Regions from separate parts of the Homo sapiens genome. Here region 1 is linked to region 2. The links come from fine-mapping of genetic effects on gene expression. A gene starts in region 2. The other region holds a variant in brackets. All regions are shown on one strand. Distances are from middle to middle. Region 1 has its middle 78 kb from the start of IRAK1BP1. Region 2 holds the start of IRAK1BP1 (interleukin 1 receptor associated kinase 1 binding protein 1).

Region 1 (8,900 bases), 78 kb after region 2:
TGATAAAGAACATGCACATGTATGTTCATTGCAGCACTATTCTACAATAAGTGGATAATATTTAAGTGTAAACAATAAAAGTCATAAAAAGATACTTGAAGTTAGAAAAACTACAGTCTGAGGGAACAAATTTGAGGTGAAGTTTCAGCCTTTTAACTTGTGGGGAGGGGGATTATCAAGAAGATGGATCCTTCTTTCTTCCTCAAATCACAGTGTTTAAGGGACAACCTTTTCCATCCATGAACAAGGAGGCAGTTTATGAGTGTGACAGGCTGAAGAGTATACAGTCTCAAAAAATCTCAAACCCTCAGGGACTGAGGGTAATGTACAATTCTAGAGGTCACTGCTCACATGTCTTTTATGTGAATGATGCCCCCATGGAGTTGGGAAACGTGTAGCTGCTGTGCTCTTCCCATATATTCATTTACTTCTAGACCACCTACTTATGTTGTCAATAATAAGCAGCAGCCCTGGGGACACTCTAGATTGCTTCATAATTTAATGTGTTAAATCAGTTTCTCTAAGGGATGATACTTTGATACTTAACCTGCTACCCGGATAAAACAAAGTACTTCTCTGAACCACTTTTCAATTCTTGAAGAAGGTCAGGGTCATTTATTTGATTTCTTACAAAAGGAGACTCCTGGTACCAAGCCACAAGAGGCTCAATAACATAAATTCACATAGTCCTCCTATAAAATTGTTTAAAATGATTGATGTGTGTGGTAGGCCTTAGTGTCTTTTAGGTCCTGGGATAAATACTCTAAATTGAAATTTTTGGTTTTAGTCTGAAGGTTATGTTGCTGACACATCTTTGGGCAAAGCAAGATAAGTGTACTCTCACATTGCTGGGCATGGTGGCTCATGCCTGTAATCCCAGCACTTTGGGAGGCTGAGGTGGGTGGATCACCTAAGGTCAGGAGTTGGAGACAAGCCTGGCCAACATGGTGAAACCCTGTCTCTACTAAAAAGTAAAAACAATTAGCCAGGTATGGTGGCGTGTGCCTGTAATCCCAGCTACTCAGTACGTTGAGGCAGGAGAACTGCTTGAACCTGGGAGGTAGAGGCTGCAGTGAGCCAAGATCGTGCCACTGCACTCCAGCCCGGGTGACAGAGCAAGACTCTGTCTCAAAAAAAAAAAAAAAAAAAAAAGAAAATAAAAAGAAAAAAAACCTCTCGTGTTATATATTTTCAGTTCAAGTTCACAGAGATTTTAATTTTTTTCTTAGAGACTGGATCTTGTTCTGTCATCAAGCCTGGAATGGAGTGGTGTGATCGTGGCCCACTATAACCTTGAACTGCTGGATCCTCCCACCTCAGCCTCTTGAGTAACTAAGACTACAGGTGTGCGTCACCACACCTGGCTGATATTTTTTTAACTTTTAAGTTCAAGGGTACAAGTGAAAGTCTGTTACTTAGGTAAACTTGTGTCATGGGGGATTGTTGTACAGATTTTTTCGTCATCCAGGTATTAAGCCTACTACCCTTTAGTTATTTTTCCAAATCCTCTCCCTCCTCCCACTGTCCACACTCAAGTAGGCCCCAGTATCTCCTCCATGTGCCCATGTGTTCTCCTTATTTAGCTCCCACTTATAAGTGAGACAATGTGATATTTGTTTTTCCATTCTTGTGTTAGTTTGCTAAGGATAATGGCCTCCAGCTCCATCCATGTTCCTGCAAAGAGCATGATCTTGTTATTTTTTATGGCAGCATGGTATTCCATGGTGTATATATACCATATTTTCTTTATCCAGTCTCTCACTGATGGACATTTAGGTTGATTGCACATCTTTGCTATTGTGAATAGTGTTGCAATGAGCATATATGTGCATGTGTCTTTATAATATATATAAATAAATATAATATTTATATTCCTTTGGGTATATACCCATTAATGGGATTGCTGGGTCAAATCGTATTTCTGTCTTTAGGTCTTTGTGGAATTGCCACACTGTCTTCCACAATGGCTGAACTAATTTACACTCCCACTAACAGTATATAAGTGTTCCTTTTTCTCCCAAACCTTGCCAGCTTCTGTTACTTTTTGACTTTTAATTAATAGTCACTATGGCTGATGTGAGATAGTATCTCATTGTGGTTTTGATTTGCATTTCTTTAATGATCAGTAATATTGAGCTTTTTTTCATATGGTTGTTGGCCACAAGTATGTCTTTTTATGAAAAGTGTCTGTTTATGTCCTTTGCTTACTTTTTATGGTGTTGTTTCTTTCTTATACATTTGTTTAAGTTCCTCATAGATGCTGTATATTAGACTTTTCTTGGATGCATGGTTTGCAAAAATTTTCTCCCATTTTGTAGGCTGTCTGTTTACTCTGTGGATAGTTTCTTTTGATGTTCAGAAGCTCTTTAGTTTCATTAAATCCCATGTGTCAATTTTTGTTTTTGTTGCAATTGTTTTGGCATCTTTGACATGAAATCTTTCTCTGTGCCTATATCCTGAATGTTATTGCCTAGGTTATCTTCCAGAGTTTTTATACTTTTGGGTTTTACATTTAAGTCTTTAATTCATCTTGAGTTAATTTTCATATAGGTGTTAGGAAGGGGACCAGTTTCAACCTCTGCCTATGGCTAGCCAGTTTTCCCAACACCATTTATTGAGTAGGGAATCCTTTCCCCATTGCTTGTTTTTGTAAGATTTGTCAAAGATCAGATAATAGTTGGTGTATGGTCTTATTTCTGGGTTCTCTATTCTGTTCCATTTGTCTATGTGTCTGTTTTTGTACCAGTATCGTGCTGCTTTTGTGACTGTAGCCCGGTACAGTAGTTTGAAGTCAGATAGTGTGATGCCTCCAGCTTTGTCCTTTTTGTTGAGGAATGCCTTGGCTATTTGGGCTCTTTTTTGGTTTCATATGAATTTTAAGATCGTTTTCTCTGGTTCTGTGAAGAATGTCGTTGGTAGTTTAATAGGAATAGCATTCAATTTATAAATTGCTTGGGGCGGTATGGCTATTTTAACAATATTGATTCTTCCTATCCATGAGCATGGAATATTTTTCCAATTGTTTATGCCATGTTTGATTTTTTTGAGTAGTGGTTTATAGTTCTCCTCATAGAGATCTTTCACCTCCATAGCTAGTTGTATTCCTAGGTATTTTCTTCTTTTTGTGGCAATTGTGAATGGGAGTTCATTCCTGATTTGGCTCTTGGCTTGACTGTTGTTTGTGTGTAGAAATGCTAGTGATTTTTGTACACTGATTTTGATATCCTGAGACTTTGCTGAAATTGTTTATCAGCAAGAAGCTTTTGGGCTGAAACTATGGGATTTTCTAGTTAATAGGATTATGTTATCTGCAAATAGGAATAGTTTGACTTTCTCTCTTCCTATTCAGATGCCCTTTTTCTCTCTCTCTCTTGCCTGGTTGTGCTGGCTAGGACTTCCAATTCTATATTGAATAGGAGTGGTGAGAGGAGTCATCCTTGTCTTGTGCTTGTTTTCAAGGGGAATGATTCCAGCTTTCCCCAGCTAATTAATTTTTTTTTTCTCAGAGATTAGGTCTAATTATGTTTCCCAGGCTGGTCTCCAACTCCTGGCCTCAAGTGATCCTCCTAACTTGGCCTTCCAAAGTGCTGGGATTACAGGTGTGAGCCACTGTGCCCTGCTCAAATCCATGAA[G/C]TTTTGAGAGTGGAGATGTACGTGACTTTCTTATCAGAAAGCTAAGACCTGTTCCATGTCTGAGTCTCACTGCTCATAATTTCTTTGAGTCATTTGCTGACATGATCCTGCTCACACCCAGAGAAAGCTGGGTGGCACTGTGGAAGGAATCATGGAGTGAGAGCCCAGAAACATAAGGTGTAGACTGTCTGGGCCCTGTGAGCAACTGGTGATAGCCCAGATGCTGGACTTCCCTGCTTTATTTTATCTGTAAAACAATCTTAATAGTATCTACTTGTGTTAACTTCCAATGGCTGATGTAACAAATTACTACACACTTTAAAACACGAATTTATTATCTTATGGTTTTGTAGGTCAGAAATCCAACACAAGTTGCTTGGGGCTAAAATCAAGGTGCCCACCAGGCTGTGTTACTTTCTGGTTGTACTAGGAGAAAATCTGTTTCCTTGTCTTTTCCAGCTTCTAGAGCCTGCTCACATTCACTGATTTGGGGTCTCATTCCTCCATCTTCAAAGCTAGCAATGTAGCTTTGATGATACTTTTGTTGTTATATGTTTTTCTCTGACACTCCCTCTTCTGCTTCCCCCTTTTTTGAATGATCCTTGTGATTACACTGGACCCATTGGATAATCCAAGATAATCTCTCTATTTTAAGGTCAGCTGATTAACAACTTCAATTTCCTCTGCAACCTTAGTTTCCCTTTACCATGTAACCTAACATATTCATAGGTTCTGAGATTAGAATGTGAACATTTTGGGGAGCCATTGTTATGCCTTGAAAGTGGCTATGCCCACTTTAGTTGGTAAAGGAATCAAATATAAAGGTACATCATCATTATGAATTACCATAATGATAGAATATACTATTGGCTGGGTAAAGTATTTTCATGTGCTTCAAGATAACTTAAAAACTCATTGCAATCAACATTTGATATGCCCCGGTTTTTGTTTTAACGTTAGCCATTTGGGGGATATTCAGTAGTATGTCATTATGATTTTAATTTGCACTTTCCTGAAGACTAATGGGAATAAACACCTTTAAATGTGTTTCTTGTCCATTTATGTATCTCATATTGTGAAAGGTATATCTAAACCTTTTATTCATTTGAAAATTGCATTTTGTCTGCATTGTGTTGTATGAGTTTGTGGTGAAGTTGCTATTGTGTCACCTTAACTAAACTGGAACTACTTTTTTCTGGGATGTCCCTCTCTGGTTGTTTTGAGCCTGAAAATTTGTGCAGGATTTAGAATGCAGACATAAAGCAGCAACTATCTTCTTTTTATTCATGGAAAGCTGGAGCAAGGCAGGTGGCACTGTTGCAGCTCACACACACTGTTGCTAATTTGCTGGTCACCCTGTGAGCATGAGGTGGCATCTGAGTTCATAGCTCCTCCAGCCAGACTTCCTCTTTACATTGTGCTGAATCCTGGGCCAGGTACATACTTATCTCCTGTAGTCAGTTGAATTTGTGTCTCCCCAAAAATATATGTTGGGATACTAGCCTTCAGTACCCCGGAATGTAACCTTATTTAGAGATAGAGTCTTTGTAGAGACAAAGGTAATCAAGTTAAAATGAGTCATTAGAGTGGGCCCTAATCCAAATACAGTGGTGTCCTTTTGAGAAGGGACAATGTGAACACAGAGACACACACATTCACAGAGAATGCCATGTGAAGATGAAGGAAGAGATTAGGGTGATGTAGCAGATACCAAGGAATGCCAAAGATTGCCAGCAAACCACCAGAAGCTAAACAAGAAGAATGGAAGAGGTTCTCCCTCACAGCTCTCAGGAGGAACCAACCCTGCTAATGTCTTCATCTGAGATTTCTAGCCTCTAGAACCAAGACAATAAATTTCTATTTTAAGCTATCCAGTTTTTATCGTGTTGCTCTGGCAACTCTAGCAAACTAATACATCTCCCTAATCATTGAAGTTGGAAGCTTGATTGAAGTTGGTGAGAGATTGGTACAGTCTGTCCTTGGAGATTTCAGCCCATCCTTATAGGTGAGTTTCTTCTTGCTTCTCTCACATTGCATTTAATTTCTCTTCCTGACTGCTTTATTAGCAGATCTCAGACTCTAGTATCAGATGTACAGACAACAGTTTCACAGAGACAGTCTCCCATAAATGTATGAGATCAAATCCATATAATGAAATATGTTTATATACATATATATATATATATATATATATATATATATATATATATATATATATACATACACATATGTATGGGACTCTTAGTGGTTCTGTTTCATTAATCAAGCCCTGATTGATACAGAACTCTTTGTATATCTTTAATACTAGTCAGATACATGTTTTGGAAAGATTTACCTCCCAATCTGTGGATCACCTTTTCATTTTCATAATGGTGTTTTTGAATAGTTATAGTTTTTAATTTTGATGAAGTAAAATTTATTAAAGTTTATATATATATATACACACACACACATATTTTGGCCTAGTGTAAACAAATCTTTACTCCACACTCATGAAGATATTCACCCGCCTCCCCCTTTTTTTTTTTAGCATGGTAAGAGGTAGTGGTCAAGATTCTTCTTTTTTTCTTATGGAGATTCAGTTGTTCCAGACCATTTATTAACATTATCTTTCTTTCTTAAATTGCCTTAGTATTTTTGTTGAAAACCAATTGACCATGTATAGGTGGGCTTATGGCTGGACCTCATCTTGTTCCATTGATTTACTTCTCTATTCTTGGCCAAAGATCACATTGTAAAAACCGCTATAGCTTTATAGTAAATCTTGAAATCAGGGAGTGTAAATCCTACAACTTTGTTGTTTTTCAAAATTGTTTTGTCTATTCTAAATTCTTTGAATTTGTATATAAATTGTAAACTGAGTTCAACAGTTAAAATGGATTTTTTTGGGATTTTGGTTAGGATTGAATTGGATATACAGATTAATTTGGGGGAATTATTGATAGTTTAATAATGTTGAATCTTCAAATACATGACCAGAGCATATATATTTAAATTGTCTTCATTTATTTAGATCTTCTTTAAATGTTCTTGAGAAATGGTTTTTAGTTTTCAGTGTTTTCATTACATTTATTATTGTTTTTAGGCTACTGTAAATAGCATTTTAAAATATCATTTTCTTAGGAACGCTTTTACAATGTTGGTGGGAGTGTAAATTGGTTCAACCATTGTGGAAGACAGTGTGGCAATTCCTCAAGGACTCAGGAGCAAAAATACCATTTGATCCAGAAACCCCATTACTGGGTATATACCCAAAGGATTATAAACCATTCTACTATAAAGACACATGCACATGTATGTTTATTGCAGCATTGTTTACAATAGCAAAGACTTGGAACCAACCCAAATACCTATCAATGTTAGACTGGATAAAGAAAATGTGTCATATATACATAATGGAGTACTATGCAGCCATAAAAAAGAATGAGTTCGTGTCCTTTGCAGGGACATGGATGAAGCTGGAAACCATCATCCTCTGCAAATTAACACAGGAACAGAAAACCAAAGACCACATGCTCTCACTCATCAATGGGAGTTGAACAATGAGAACACATGGACACAGGGAGGGGAATATCACACACCAGGGCCTGTCAGGGGGCTGGGGGGAAAGGGGAGGGAGAGCATTAGGACAAACACCTAATGCACGCAGGGCTTGAAACCTAGATGATGGGTTAATAGGTGCAGCAAATCACCATGGAACATGTATACCTATGTAACAAACGTGCATGCTCAGCATGTGTATCCCAGAACTTAAAGTAAAAAAAATATATATATATATGTATATAATAAAATATCATTTTCTAATTATTTGTTGCTAGTATGTAGAAATACAATCTATCTGTTCTTGGACTTTTTTTGATTGGTAAGCTATTAATTGTTGCCTCAATTTCAGAGCCTGTTATTGGTCTATTCAGAGATTCAACTTCTTCCTGGTTTAGTCTTTGGAGAGTGTATGTGTCGAGGAATTTATCCAGTTGTTCTAGATTTTCTAGTTTATTTGTGTAGAGGTGTTTACAGTATTCTCTGATGGTAGTTTGTATTTCTGTGAGATCAGTGGTGATATCCCCTTTGTCATTTTTTATTGCATCTATTTGATTCTTCTCTCTTTTCTTCTTTAGTAGTCTTGCTAGCGGTCTATCAATTTTGTTGATCTTTTCAAAATACCAGCTCCTGGATTCATTGATTTTTTGAAGAGTTTTTTGTGTCTCTATTTCCTTCAGTTCTGCTCTGATCTTAGTTATTTCTTGCCTTCTGCTAGCTTTTGAATGTGTTTGCTCTTGCTTTTCTAGTTCTTTTAATTGTGATGTTAGGGTGTCAATTCTGGATCTTTTCTGCTTTCTCTTGTGGGCATTTAGTGCTATAAATTTCCCTCTACACACTGCTTTGAATGTGTCCCAGAGATTCTGGTATGTTGTGTCTTTGTTCTCGTTGGTTTCAAAGAACATCTTTATTTCTGCCTTCATTTCGTTATGTACCCAGTAGTCATTCAGGAGCAGGTTGTTCAGTTTCCATGTAGTTGAGTGGTTTTGAGTGAGTTTCTTAATCCTGAGTTCTAGTTTGATTGCACTGTGGTCTGAGACACAGTTTGTTATAATTTCTGTTCTTTTACATTTGCTGAGGAGTGCTTTACTTCCAACCATGTGGTCAATTTTGGAATAGGTGTGGTGTGGTGCTGAAAAGAATGTATATTCTGTTGATTTGGGGTGGAGAGTTCTGTGGATGTCTATTAGGTCTGCTTGGTGCAGAGCTGAGTTCAATTCCTGGATATTCTTGTTAACTTTCTGTCTCATGATCTGTCTAATGTTGACAGTGGGGTGTTAAAGTCTCCCATTATTATTGTGTGAGAGTCTAAGTCACTTTGTGGGTCACTCAGGACTTGCTTTATGAATCTGGGTGCTCGTGTATTGGGTGCATATATATTTAGGATAGTTAGTTCTTGTTGAATTGATCCCTTTACCATTATGTAATGGCCTTCTTTGTCTCTTTGGATCTTTGTTGGTTTAAAGTCTGTTTTATCAGAGAGTAGGATGGCAACCCCTGCCTTTTTTTGTTTTCCATTTGTTTGGTAGATCTTCCTCCATCCTTTTATTTTGAGCCTATGTGTGTCTCTGCATGTGAGATGGGTTTCCTGAATACAGCACACTGACGGGTCTTGACTCTTTATCCAATTTGCCAGTCTGTGCCTTTTAATTGGAGCATTTAGCCCATTTACATTTAAGGTTAATATTGTTATGTGTGAATTTGATCCTGCCATTATGATGTTAGCT
Region 2 (8,900 bases):
GGATTCCGGCAGCCAGGGAAAGCTTTCACTTTCAGGCAAAGAATTTACAAATGTTGTCAGATGGAAGCTGGGCCTGCATGCACACAAATGTGAAGTGCCAAAGGATACAAGTAGTGGTATCAATAGCATCAGTGACATCTTCCCTACCTAAAATCTCAATTATCCACTGTCAAGAGAATAAAGAAGCAACATCCTGTAGTGGTTAAGAGCATGGACCCTAAAGTTAAAATTCTGCCACTTCCTGGCTGTGACCGTGTGCAAGCAACCTGCCAATAATCACTCTGGTCCTTGGAGTTCTCATCTATAAACAGCCCTATCCTCATGTCCCAATCACCTCCTAAAAGCCTCCTCCGAATACCATCATACTTGGGATTAGGTTTCAACTATAAATTTTGGGGGGAAACAAACATTTAGTCCATTGCAAGAACTATATGCCTTGATGTGTCATGATGTAAGGTAAGTTCTCGTCTGCTGTTCCTGTGGAATACCTCCTACTGGGTGTCATGGTGGCTGAGGTGGTCTGTTGTGAAGCAAAAAGGAGAAAAGGTGTCTGTCTTTTGGTTGCACTGTGTTAAAGGAATCTTACAGTAGTCTTGCTCATACTGCAATGGGTTAAAGGGGTTAAACACTCCCTTCAGCATTTACTCCTAGTCCTCTCTTGCACTAGAACTTAGATATGCATCCTGAGTGACCGAAACACTTTTGTGAGGGAGGACCAGACATTGTGAGGTCATTTTATGCCTACAGTTGGAGAGAGAAGAAAATAAAGGGGAAGCAGAGATATCAGGGTAATTCTTGGTAGCATTCACTATATACCAAATCTACTGGCTCCTTGATCTTGGATGCCCAGATTCCAGAACTGTAAGATACACATTTCTGTTGTTTATAAGCTACCCAGGCTATGGTTTTTCATTACAGCAGACCAAACAAACTAAGACAATATAAAGTATTGTTTAAAAATGAACAATGGGCCAGGCGCAGTGGCTCACGCCTGTAATCCCAGCATTTTGGGAGGTTGAGGTGGGGGATCAGTCAGGAGTTCGAGACCAGCCTGGCCAACACAGTGAAACCCCATCTCTACTAAACATACAAAAATTACCAGGCGTGGTGGCAGGCGCCTGTAATCCCAGCTACTTGGGAGGCTGAGGCAGGAGAATTGCTTGAACCTGGGAGGCGGAGGTTGCAGTGAGCCTAGACTGCCTCCATTGTACTCCAGCCTGGGCGACAAAAGCGAAACTCCATCTCAAAAAAAAACAAAAACCAAAAACAAAAATGAACAATGAAAAGAAAGGCTTAATGTTTGTTGGTTGAATGAGTAAATATTGCTTAGAACTTTAAAACACTTTTCAATGAAAACCACGCTAGAAGTAAGGATTATACCTTCACACAAGTTCATAAATCTATGATCTATACCATAGCTGAATAATTTGTTCACTTATTGTTTCATTTTTTTTCTATTATTCATTCAGAAGGCATTTTCTGAGTACACATTATGTGAAGTGTATGGACCATAACTCATACAGGCAAAAAAAGAACAAATGGTCTTGGCTCTGGAGAAGTTTAGAATATGGAGGAGAAACAAGTAAATTAAGAATTATGATACAGGATAAGTTTTTATTACAAGTATAGGGAGTGAAGTGTTGCATGGCAGGGATTAGTGTTATATTAGGAAAGGAATGCCAAGAAGGTGAATTTGGGCTGATTCTTTTCTTTTCTTTTTTTTTTTGAGACAGTGTCTCACTTCCATAGCTCAGACTTGGGCTAATTCTTAAAGAAAAATACAATAGAGGGGAGGAAGATATGATAGGAGATGAGGATAGTCAGGCTCCATCTTTTTTTTTTTTTTTTTTTTTTTTTTTTTTTGGGACGGAGTTTCACTCTTGTTGCCCAGGCTGGAGTGCAATGGCACGAACTCAGCTGACTGCAACCTCCGCCTCCTGGGTTCAAGCAATTCTCCTGCCTCAGCCTCACAAGTAACTGGGATTACAGGCATGCACCACCATGCTTGGCTAATTTTGGTATTTTTAGTAGAGACGAGATTTCACCATGTTGGTCAGGCTGGTCTTGAACTCCTCACCTCAGGTGATCTGCCCTCCTCGGCCTCCCAAAGTGATGGGATTACAGGCGTGAGCCACCACGCCCGGCTCAGGCTCCATCTTTTAAGCAAAGGAGTTTGGATTATGAGGAGCCCTTTAAGCAGGGAAGTGATGTTTATAAATCTTACAGCTCAGAATTCTAAAGTTTAAAATGAATACAGACTTTGTGAAGACCCATAATTCATTCTGAAAATATAAATGATATTTTGTATTATCTCCTGAACAAATTATCTACCTGACTGCTTTCATCCATTAGCAGAGATAATTGGGAGGTTACTGTCTTTCTTATGTCTTGCCTTGAACACTGAATCTTGATTACTCTAAGTTGGACTTAGTTAATTTATTTACTTACTACTTATTTGAGACAGAGTCTCTGTCACCCAAGCTGGAGTGCAGTGGCACCATCTCGGCTCACTGAAACCTTCGCCTCCCGGATTCAAGAGATTTTCCTGCCTCAGTCACCCTAGTAGCTGGGATTACAGGACTGTGCCACCATGCCCACCTAATTTTTGTATTTTTACTAGAGATTGGGTTTTGCCATGTTGGCCAGGCTGGTCTCGAACTCCTGGCCTCAAGTGATCCACCTGCCTTGGCCTCCCAAAGTGTTGGCATTACAGGCATGAGCCACCATGCCCAGCTTATGTTGTTTTATATATTAGAGACCTGTGAGCTCTTTTTATTTTATGTAAATAACTTAAAAACTTGTTAACATTATTCAAACGACTACAGCACTAGTAGCAGTTTTTTAAAACTATTTTTCTACATATTAAACCCACTTTACTCACATTATTTATAATTATCTGTATTTTTCTAAATTGTAAAATCATTTGAAGAAATCTTGTCCAAATGACTTTGTAATAACTTGTATGTTTGTATTATAAATGCAATTCAAATATCTTTTCTTGTTAAAAATAAGGACTTGCTTTTTCGGGGTATGGAATTTCTTGCAATAGACTGGAAGTAACAATGCCTGCACTTTTACCAACTCAATGTCATCCTGGATAAGTTACATCTCTGGCCTTTGGGGTCCTACTCTATAAAATGAGAAAACTGAAATCGTTGATCCCTATGATTTCTAATTTTCTTTCATTCTAATTATCGGCAGAATTGGAAGCAACTTACATTCTGGTTTCAGGAATACATGAGTTCAAATATTGCTCTACCTAAAGTTCAGAGCATTGTTTAACCTCTTTAAATTTGGAAAACAGGGATATTAAAACATGCCTAACAGTGCTATTGTGTGGATTAAATGATGGCTTCATTTTTTTTCTTGCCTTAGGAGTAGGCTTAAGGTAAGATTTGTTTAGTGATTTGTCTCATGGACATCTCCGTTAAGTAAGTAGAAGTATTTCGTATATGTGGTATCCACAATACTGGCTTGATTTTTTCTTTTAAGTTAAACCTAAGAAGGCCGAAGAAATTTTGGGGGAATCACTATAAAATGAAAATCATTATAAAATGAAAATGGACGCAACTTCTTCCCCACTTCCCAACGTTACTGTTTGCGGAACATACTCAAGAACCATTCCATGCAAAGTTTTACATGATCGGAAGGAAGCAGGTCGTGCTCTTCACTTGCCAATTCCATGGTGCGGAATAAAAACAAAACAAAACAAAATATTTAGTGTCCAGCACTCCACGTGGGCAAGTATTTACAACTAACATTTCAAGTTTTAACATTTCATCACTTTAAATTTAAAAACAAAATCACTGAAGCAAATATCCCCAGATAAAAACCTACCCAATTTGCATTCTTTTATTTTTAATTTGCCTGAGGCCAATAATTACCTTCGTCTAGGAGAAGAATGGGTCAAATATTCACTCTGCCAGGTCCTGGCGTCCCGGAGTACCTTTGCAACAAACGCGTCCTAAACGCTCCAGACCCTCCACATCTCCCTTCCCGCTAGGGGGGCCTGTGGGGCCCGACCATCTGCCAACCCTTTTGTGTCTTCCGGCTCTTATTTCCTCCCCCGCGGAGATCTCACCTGCACGCCCTGCTGCTGGAGGCTCTGCGTGATGTAATCTAGACGGCGACAAACGCTCTTTTTGGCCTCGGCTGCCGCCTCCTTGGTGCTGCTCACTCGCACCACCACCTGCGCCCGGTCAGGGCCCGCAGACACTTCTGAGGTGCCGCTTACTTGCACCTCGCGGGTAGCAGTTTGGGCTTGTGTTGAGGAGAGGGGGTGGCGTAAGCCCGGTAGCGTCTCTCTCCCTGAGGCCAGGTTGTTCTCCCGGCTCCGGTCAGCCCAGGGAACCAGTTCCACGAACACTCGGGTCGGAGGGGTCTTTTGCAGAGACATAGCGATGGCAGCTGGGTTTCCATAGTAACTACCGGCCGACGGCGGCCGAAGGGGCCAATGCGCACCAGGGCTTGCCTGTGCACGGCGCAAAGTATGCCGGGATGGGTGTGGAGGCCGCGGAACTTCTGGCGGGCGCAAGCTATATGCCTTGTTGATCTTGCCGCATCTTTTTTACTAGATGTCGGCTGAGTGAGTAGCTACAGTTTTTAACATGTTTAACTTACGGCCTTCAAAAATTGTTAGCGGACTTTCTCTGTTGCCTCCTCAGTGAGCTCTGCCCTTTCTCGCAACTCCTTGTCGTCCCACCGCGCCTCTGCACCTCAGAGGAAGGAGAAGAGTAGCGAGGCCGAGCGGGTTTTTAGATTTCTCTGTGATTACCCCCAGCCTTGTCTTTTCTGACTTTACCGTCCCCGCTTGGGGTACTGCTTTTTGAGGCTCCCTCGGCCACATTTTTGTGGTTCGTGAGAGGTTTCAGTTGAGGTGAACTTTTTGCCCCTGTGATCTTGGACAGTTTATGATTCTTCATATCTCAGTATCATCTTCTCTAAAGCAGGGTTGATAATATTTTTTATATTAGTAATATATAATATATTCTAATATATATAATATATTCTAATATATAATATATTCTAATATATATAATATATTAATATTATCAAAGCAATGTTGATAATATTTTTCACATTTGCTATGTGCTTATAAGGCGCCCATTGTATGTAGAGTGCGTTGCATATGGAAAGCAGAGTGAACATAATGGATGTTTGTAATGATAGCTATGGCTTTGGCATCATTTTTGTGTCTCCCCATTTTTTTCTAAAATCCCTGGAATGGTTCGGGCCTTGAATTCCGACAGAAGAGATTTAGGTGGTAGCAAAGCACGTCCAACATGGAGTTTGCTGGGCCTGCACAACTTGGAGCTTCTCTGTACCCTTTTCTTCAGAGAACTTTTAGAACACAACCCTCAACTTCCCGTCTTCTGGATTCTCTTCCTAGCACTAAGCAATGATCTTTGTAAAAATAGCCCCACTGACTTATACGTCTTTACTATCTGAATTTTATCAAGAGAATCGAGGGGGGAAAAAAGAATTTTGAATAACTAGTTCTAGAAGGACAAGAACTGTTCTTTTAAAAGGACCCTGAAAAGCTGACAGTCCTCTTGTAGTTTCTTCACCATCGTTTTTTCTGTTCTTTTCGATTAGTATAATTCAACTAAATCAATGGTACCCCCCTCCTTTAATTAGGCTCATCACTAGATTAACATAATTTTGTGTATATCCATCTTGTTTATTGTTAGCTGAAAACAATTTTAATTTAAAAACTAACGTTAAGAACTTTCCGTCATAGTCTTTTATTATTTAAGACACCCAAAATAATGTTTCTTAAACTTGGTGAAAAATTCTTTTTCCCTTACGATAAATGCGGAAGAATATAGCCTCCAAAATAAATTATTGAATGAGTGAATGTCATAAACAAAAAGCAACAGGAGTTAAAGTGTAAGTATTTAGTATACGATAAAAGATTTCATATCAGTGGAAAATGATTACATGGTACAGGGATAATTGTAAGCTATATATATAATATACTATAGCTATATAGCTATAGTATATTTTATATATATATATATTTTTTTTTTTTTGAGGCGGAGTCTCGCTCTGTCATTCTGGCTGGAGTGCAGTGGTGCGATCTGGGCTCACTGCAAGCTCCGCCTCCCGGGTTCACGCCATTCTCCTGCCTCAGCTCCCGAGTAGCTGGGACTACATGTGCCCGCCACCACGCCCGGCTAATTTTTTTGTATTTTTAGTAGAGATGGGGTTTCACCGTGTTAGCCAGGATGGTCTCGATCTCCTGACCTCGTGATCCGTCCACCTCGGCCTCCCGAAGTGCTGGGATTACAGGCATGAGCCACGGTGCCTGGCCCATTGTAAGCTATATTTTTAAAGAATTTGTATCTTATATCATACATTGAAAATAATTCAGATGAGACCAAAAAGAAAAATAATTGGAAGAACCTATATGTAAATATAAATATTCTGGGGGATGGGAAGGCTGGCCTTAATCATAATTTCATGTGCAGCAACCATGAAGGAAAAGTTTGAAAAATTGGACTATACTAAAAAAAATCAGTTATATAAAGCAAAATAAAAACAAAGGTGGGGGGGCAAATAAATGGGGAAAAATGTTTGTTAATGTTTATTATGTATAAAGGGCTAAGAGTCTTAATGCTTAGAGAACTGTTGCTAGAAGAAACAAACGTGTCAAAAGAAAAATAATGAACACTGAGGCAAACTGTATTAGATTGCTATTGCCATAACAAAAGTCTTTCGGCTTCAAAGACTTTGGAGCTTAAACAGCACAAATTTATTTTCTCACAGTTCTGGGGCCTAGAAGTCCAAGATTAAGGTGTCAGCAGTTTTGGTTTCCCCCAAGGCCTTTCTGGTTGGCTTGCAGACGGCTACTTTCTTGCAGCATCCTCACATAGCCTTGCCTCTGTGCACATTACCCCGATGTCTCTTCATAGAGCCTCACCTTTGTGACTTCCATTTAACCTTAATTACCTTCTTAAAAGCCCTGTTCCAAACACAGTCACATTGAAGAGCACTCCAACATACGAATTTTGGGGAACACAAGTCCACAATACAGACCAAGAAAGCAGAAATGTTAGTAGTCTATAGGATGAAAAAAAAAATAGTTTATCCTCACCAGTAGTTTAAGAAATGCAAATTTAACTACAGTGTAATGTCTGTTTTTGAACTATCATTTTGGCAAATAACAAAGCCCGTGAGAATGGAGAAGGAATAGATAATACTGGATTTTGAAAGAAGAATGAATTAATTCTTTGTGACAGAACTATAAATTAATAGTATATGAAAGAGAAGGATAAGCCTAAACTGACTTATGAAGTTTTCAGCTGGAATGATTGGGAGAATGAATGAAGAGCATAGAGCTATTTGTTCAGCTCATAGTAGCCCAGTTCTCTCTCAGAGTCAAGGCTGAGCCCCTAGCAACTGTTTTGAATAAGGTGACTCTACCAAGTTGATTGTACTAAGAATAGGTACCTAATTCCAGTTGAACCCGTTGGAATTTTTCACATGAGAATCTATATTTACACCAAATTTTAAAAATTTAGTCTCTTAGGTGACAGGGCTGTGACATACACTCATATATATATTTATGTAAAACCTTGGGAGATATAGATTGGCCATTTTTCTATTAGAGAAATAGAAAAAGTGTAGAGATGGGGTGGGGAGAAAGAGAGAGAAAGAGAAAATGATACTTTCCAAGAGGATCAGAGGTGAGATGGAAAAATAGTCCAGATGCAATTCCAGTCTCTTTTTTAAGAATTTTTTCTTAGGCCTGGTTTCATTCCTGCCCTGGAGTTCTCTAAAATATTCCTGTATCCTTATAAAAATTCCCCTCCCCCTTTTTTTTGCATAAGTAGCTTGACCAAGTTTTATGTTATCTTAAAACCAAGACTGATAAGAATAAATGAGAAGGAGAATTTAAAGCTGACTTTTATACCTGTCAGCCTGAAGGAATTTATAGAACTTCACACAAAGTGGATCTGTAGGTGCACTGCTCAAAGCTTCACCTTTTGGGGAAATTTTCCTTCTCCACTGTTATTCAGAGATTTTACAAGTGACGTTGTTCCACAGCTGCTTCTCATTTTTTACTGGCACCTGCATACCAAGCCAGCCTATCCATAATCTTGCCATAAAAGCTCAGGTTTTTTTCCTCCTCCTTCAGTTGGCCATAGAGTAATCCCTACATAGCCATTGGTGTGAGGTGAGGGAGGTGTTTTGGTGCAACCTTGGTGGGTGGCATGGGCGTCTGAGCTGCTTGCTCATGCAGCTTGCTTATACCCTCTGGTGCTTGTGTCTCAGATGTGCCATTATCTTTTTATCTGTTTCTGGTGGGGTATCTGACTTTGAGTTGAAGTCTCTGACAGTACCCAGCTTATGATGGGCAATTCCAAACATCTCAAAAATTAAAATCCCAAGTGTCAGAAGAGAATGGAATAATACATTCTAAATCCTGAGGGGGAAAAAAACCTAACCTAGAAGTGTGTATTAAGGTCCTTGCCTTGTTCAAAAAGATGTCAGATGTACTAAAATCACTTTAGACTTTGTTACACTTTATAATTAAATACTTATGGAAAATATATTGGTAAATGAAGAAGCCAAAAGGAACAGAAAAAAGGCTCAAAGGGGTAAGGGAAAGATTAAGATAGTACAATGTTGTGGAACCAAAGTTTGTATAATTGTCAAAAAGAGGTGATCCATAATGTCATGGTACAGGTCAAAAACTTGAAGATGAAGACATGCCTATTGCATGTAATATTTAGCAGATTTTTAGTGACCATTCAAAGAAATGTTTTACTGTTAACCAGATAGCAAAGGGTTAAGGAAAAGTGATTGGGAAAAGTAGAAAGAGATAAATATTTGTTAATGTTCTCTATAGTGAGTTTTTTTTTTTAAGTAATTGGATTTAGACTTTCCAGAAATGA

What was found.
Region 1: its variant is fine-mapped to the expression of IRAK1BP1 in blood mononuclear cells (TOPMed, PIP above 0.99). The same link has a PIP of 0.9 or more in cerebellum, minor salivary gland, unexposed skin and whole blood.

Annotation. Positions count from the first base shown.
Region 1 is chr6:78,785,103-78,794,002 of GRCh38, reverse strand. No RefSeq gene overlaps it. Among named protein-coding and RNA genes, the nearest start is that of IRAK1BP1, 78 kb to the left of the region's middle. The variant G/C (reference allele first, on the strand shown) is at 3,634.
Region 2 is chr6:78,863,073-78,871,972 of GRCh38, reverse strand. It overlaps IRAK1BP1 (interleukin 1 receptor associated kinase 1 binding protein 1), which reads right to left and starts at 4,422. Exons shown (of 4, transcript NM_001010844.4): 1 at 4,082-4,422. The coding sequence starts at 4,396. It overlaps LOC107986613 (a long non-coding RNA gene), which reads left to right and starts at 4,483. Exons shown (of 2, transcript XR_001744210.2): 1 at 4,483-4,585. RefSeq lists enhancers at 3,635-4,235, 4,068-4,387, 4,418-4,527.